Regions from separate parts of the Homo sapiens genome. Here region 2 is linked to region 1. Evidence: fine-mapped expression QTL. Tissue or cell type: whole blood. Region 1 holds a variant in brackets; the other region holds the start of a gene. All regions are shown on one strand. Distances are between the middles of the regions.

Region 1 (2,756 bases):
CAAATCTCTCTGCTTCCTTCGATGTTGCCTGTGGCAGAAATTTACATTATCCCTTCAGCCCGCTTAAAAAATTCTGTACTTCCCAAGCGGCTAAATTTTTAAAGTCCCTCAACCACAAAAATCTACCAGTTCTTAAAATGTGATTTAAAAAAAAGAAAAAAAAACTATAAATTTGGCCGGAAACGGTTGTACACGGCCATCCTGCTTCTCAACTTCTTGGTATATTTAAAACCTTGACCAGGAAAAAGAAAGAGGAAGAGAGACAGAAAAAGAAATGGGGGAAAGAGCAAATTCCCCTTAGCAACAGTTTCCTCACCCCAACACTGCTACAGATCTCTATTTTTAAAAAATTTGAAAACACACACAAGATTAAGGAGGAAAAAAAATGGAAAAAGGATACCCGAAGGTCGTATGGCTCTTTGTATTCGTGTGTGTGCAAAAAGGAGGACTCGCGGAGCCCGAGCCGGCAAGCCCCGCCCCTCCCCGGACGCCCTCCCGGATTGGCCGTCCGCGGCCGCGGGGCGCCCCGCCCGCAAGCACACGCGCCGCGCCCGAGGCGCCAACCCCGGAGTTGGGGGCGGGGGGGGCCCTGAGGGCCGCCGGACCCCCGACCCCCAACCTCGCCTGGACCTTGGCAGACCCCTTTCCCACCTCTCTCCCTTTCACTTTCTCACCGTCCTGTCACCCTTTCCCATCTTTTTTTCTCAGTGAAACAAGGCCCAGTCACCAGCATAACAATCCAGTGAGCGACCTCCGGACACTTTGTTAAATTGAGTGAACTAGTCAGTAACATTCTAGACTGCAATTAAACATCAGGGACTTGGTGCGTGGGCCCTACTCCGGTTTCCAGGTGAAATGTCTCTGGGTCACGTGTGTTGCTTAACACCCCCACGTTTAAATGAACATTCACGTATGGAACATCTTTCTGAAGTCTTACACTTCAGCCCGAGCTCCCAGTTTATCTACCTGGCTCAGACCACATTCTCAAAACTAAAGTGGCTCCTCTTTATTTCCAGGAAGACAGCTGGTATACCTGGATTTTAAGCCACCCATAATCTGGTCCCACCCACCTATTTGTTATTTATTTATTTATTTAGACAGAGTCTCGCTCTGTCACCCAGGCTGGAGTGCAGTGGTATGATCTTCGCTCACTGTAAACTCCGCCCCTCCGCCCCCACCCCCACCCCCACCCCCACCCCGCCCAAGCGATTCTCCTGCCTCAGCCTCCCAAGAAGCTGGGACTACAGGCGTGCGCCACTGCACCCAGCTAATTTTTTTTGTTTTTGGTAGAGACAGGGTTTCGCCATGTTGGCCAGGCTGGTCCTGAACTCCTGACTTGAGGTGATGTGCCCACCCTGCCTTTTTTTTTTTTTTTTCAGTGATGTGATCTCGGCTCACTGCAACCCCCACCTCCGAGGCTCAAGCGATTCTCCTGCCTCAGCCTCCCGAGTAGCTGGGATTACGGATATATGCCACCACGCCCGGCTATTTTTTTTTTTTAAGTAGTGACGGGGTTTCACCATGTTGGCCAGGCTGGTTTTGAGCTCTTGACCTCAAGTTATCCTCCCGCCTTGGCCTCCCAAAGTGCTGGGATTACAGGCGTGAGCCACCGCGCCTGGGCACATATTTGTTCTTAGTTCCCTCTACGCTCGTCTTATCAATCTTGTATTATTCCTTTACTCAAGTGG[C/CT]TTTTTTTTTTTTTTTTGGCCTGAATTATGCGTCTCCCCTTCCCTGACTGGTCAATTTTTATCCATTCTCTTTCAGCACAGACTGCTTACTTCCTTCTCTCCGCTCCCATCAACATGAATTTCATGTGTACTCCAGTTAGCGGCACGTAACTCTACCTTGATTCACATATTTTAGTAATTTCACTCCAGTAAACTGTTTGAGGTCAGTGATCATATCTTAAAATTGTTTTTCCATCCAGGAACTGTTTGATTCTTACTGCAGTAGCTGGCATAATTGTAGATATTTAGTAAACACTGACCAAAAAAATCATTTATTTATTTATATTTATTTTTGAGCTGGAGTCTCGCTCTGTCGCCCAGGCTGGAGTGCAGTGGCCCGATCTCGGCTCACTGCAAGCTCCACCTCCCAGGTTCACGCCATTCTCCTGCCCCAGCCTCCCGAGTAGCTGGGACTACAGGCGCCCGCCACCAAGTCTGGCTAATTTTTTGTATTTTTAGTAGAGACGGGGTTTCACCGTGTTAGTCAGGATGGTCTGGATCTCTTGACCTCGTGATCCACCAGCCTCAGCCTCCCAAAGTGCTGGGATTACAGGCGTGAGCCACCATGCCGGGCCAAAAATCATTTATGATCAAATAAGTGAATTTCTTTTCTAGCTAAAACACAGATTCTGAAACTCACATCTCACAAGAATTTCCCTTCTATAGTAAGTAGCAATTTGTGAACACTTATTGTGCAGGAAGTAACTGTTCTGAACACTTTATGTGCATCAATTTAGGTATTATTATTATTATTTTTTTTTTTTATTTTTTATTTTTCGAGACAGAGTCTTTCTCTGTCGTCCAGGCAGGCGGATCACGAGGTCAGGAGTTCGAGACCAGACTGACCAACATGGTGAAACCCCGTCTCTGCTAAAAATACAAAAAGTTAGCTGGGCATCGTAATGCGCACCTGTAGTCCCAGCTACTTGGGAGGCTGAGGTAGGAGAATTGCTTGAACCCAGGAGGCAGAGGTTGCAGTGAGCCAAGATTGCGCCACTGCACTCCAGGCTGGAGGACAGAGCGAGACTC
Region 2 (2,628 bases), 92 kb before region 1:
CAATCACGTCAGTTCCTAGACCTCGTCATAGCACAAGCCAACAGATAGACCCCACTGCTAAAGGAGCAGAGAGAACCACTGTCAGACCAATTCGGGAAGAATTCACGAAAAGCTGGAGCCCCAGGGGTGATGGTAGCGCCATCCCCAGGGTCTGATCACTTAGCTGGGCACAAACACCTACAAACTGAAGGCAGCTTAACAAAAGAGGAACAATGAGAACGATAAAAGCTACTTGAAGGACCACCCTCCCCATGTTGTGTAGCTTTAAAAAATGGTCCTATAGGCCGGGCGCGGTGGCTCACGCCTGTAATCCCAGCACTTTGGGAGGCCGAGGCGGGTGGATCACCTGAGGTCAGGAGTTCGAGGTCAGCCTGGCTAACATGGCAAAACCCCATCTCTATTAAAAATACAAAAATTAGCCGGGCGTTGTGGCAGGCGCCTGTAATCCCAGCTACTCGGGAGGCTGAGGCAGGGGAATCGCTAGAACCCGGGAGACAGGATGCAGTGAGCCGAGATCGCGCCACTCCACTCCAGCCTGGGTGACAAAGCGACACTCCGCCTTAAAAAAATAAAAAAAAAGAGGTCCTATAGGCAACCAACTGGCACAATCTCTGCGGGAGCCAGTGTCCCAGGGCTCAATCTTCATATGTGGCATCATAATACGCCTACTGGAATGAGTGCTTGAAAAAGTTAAATGGGAAAAGCCCATAAAGGTCAACATAGTGAACATGAATCTTCGACAGACTAGAGATTGAGGAAGAAAGCTCAATTCCCTTCTCTCTCTCTGAATGGTGGTGCGAGTGGCTGAAACTGATGATGCGTGTCCTCTCAGGCCGCGGAGGGTCGATGCTCCCTCTCCAGTGTGGGCGACCCTAAGTGTCACGGCTGCAGAGACCCGGAAAGAAAAATCACAGGATTCTAGAAACCGCATCTTTATCGGTGCAAGATACAGCCACGAGGGTGCCCAACTCTAAAATCGTGGCAGTGGGCTACATTTAAGTAGCTAACACTTCCAGGTCAAAACAAACAAAGGTTTTTTTAATGTTAAAAGTTCGCCTGAATCTCTTCGTGACGCCATTTTCTGCCCGTGACGTCAGGGGGGAGGCGCCGTGCAGCAACGTCACGCATTGGTGACGTCTGGTGGGGACCGGGTTTTGGGGTTTCTCACCAGTTCCGGGTCCCCGCAGGGGGGTCCCGGTTCTCTCCGTTCCTTTGAGTATGTTGTGGGGAGTGGAGCTCGGATAGTTCCTAGAGTCTAGGCAAGAAAAGCAGCACTGCAGGTACAGAGCCTCCTCTTCCCGCAAAATGGCGGCAGCTCTGCCGTCTTCCAGAACCTTCCCCAATCTGCGCATGCGCCAAGACTCCCCGGCTTTGGAAATAACCTCACTGGTTTCGCGGCAACCGTCCAAAGTACAGGTTCTCATTGGCTAAAGTCCTAAGTATGGGTGGAGCAAACTCAAATGCGTCTTAGCAACCACCGAGTTCCCATTGATTGGCTAACCTCAGAGACTCCAGAAAATGGAAGCGTCCTTTGGTAGCCGCCCATCACTCTCTCATTGGTTAAATGACTTGCGGAGGGCGGGGAAAACGGGACTGAAAACGGGAGTGAAGAAGCCACCAACCCCACTCCTGGTGCTCGCGTAGACTAGACCAGTGCGATGGGCGGAGCCAACGAGGAGGCACAATTTACATCCTTGGCCGTCCCTACTCGGATTTGCTGAAGGAGTCACGTCGGTCGTTAAGGTTAAGCTTTGTAGAGAACAGCGGCGTTTGTTTAACGTCCGGGGATGCTGAACTCGAAATCCCCGTTCTGAGCCGGCTACCTAAACAACCTTCCCGACCACCTCTCCTGACCTCGGTGCTTGGGACCAGGGAAAAGCAGATCTTGCCACAGACTTGTCTTGGCCCACACTCTGCCCTATCGTCATGGCCTGCTCCCACAGGTCATAACTTCCGTTCAAATCAGTACCCCCACATTTCCCACTGCAAGGGTAAATTTGAAAGTTTCTCAGGTGACTCCTTGGATGTAGCAGTACTGAGTCCTCTAACCGGAAAGAAGGAACTGATGTCCACCCTCACTTTCCAGGGGCCTCCAGGAGCCCCTAGACACTTCTGTGGTCTACTGTAGCTACCAAAAATGTAGCTGGTTATAACATGGGGAGAGCCAGAGTCGGAGGACCTGACTTCCAATTCTGACTTGGATACTAATATCACATCATTGTACCCATTTCAAACTCCCCCTCTGTAAAATGGAAAATTGGACTAGATGATCTCTTAGGACTTCAAACTGTAACCCTGTGGTTTTATTCAAAAAAAACAGGTAGCTTCTTGCTGGAGATTCCTGGATGGATTCCAGTCTTCCCAAGAGGTAACAAAGGAGAGGTAACCAGTTGCCCGTGCAGTAGCTCAAGAATACAGAAGAGAAACTGGCTTCACTCACTATTCCATCTTTTTCCAAGGTGGCAAACTCTATGCCTCCTCCCCAGAGAAAAGCCTAACTGTAGGTTCTAATGGACAAGAGCTCACTGTAGCTGGTCAGAAAGGCCTATATCCAGGACTACAATAGTCATTGCTCAGCTTCCTAAGTAGGGAATACAACTAGGCCCCTTTGGGTCTTGGATAGGCTAA

Evidence for each region. PIP is the estimated chance that this variant, and not a neighbour inherited with it, causes the effect.
Region 2: RBM23 starts here. The variant in region 1 is fine-mapped to the expression of RBM23 in whole blood (INTERVAL, PIP 0.98).

What each region holds. Positions count from the first base shown.
Region 1 is chr14:23,009,701-23,012,456 of GRCh38, forward strand. It overlaps C14orf93 (chromosome 14 open reading frame 93), which reads right to left and starts at 443. Exons shown (of 7, transcript NM_021944.4): 1 at 401-443. RefSeq lists a silencer at 432-781. The variant C/CT (reference allele first, on the strand shown) is at 1,689.
Region 2 is chr14:22,917,831-22,920,458 of GRCh38, forward strand. RBM23 (RNA binding motif protein 23) reads right to left here and starts at 1,319. Exons shown (of 14, transcript NM_001077351.2): 1 at 1,169-1,319. PRMT5-AS1 (PRMT5 antisense RNA 1) reads left to right here and starts at 1,626. Exons shown (of 2, transcript NR_120600.1): 1 at 1,626-2,628. RefSeq lists enhancers at 1-135, 624-793, 864-973, 1,064-1,133 and a silencer at 1,394-1,693.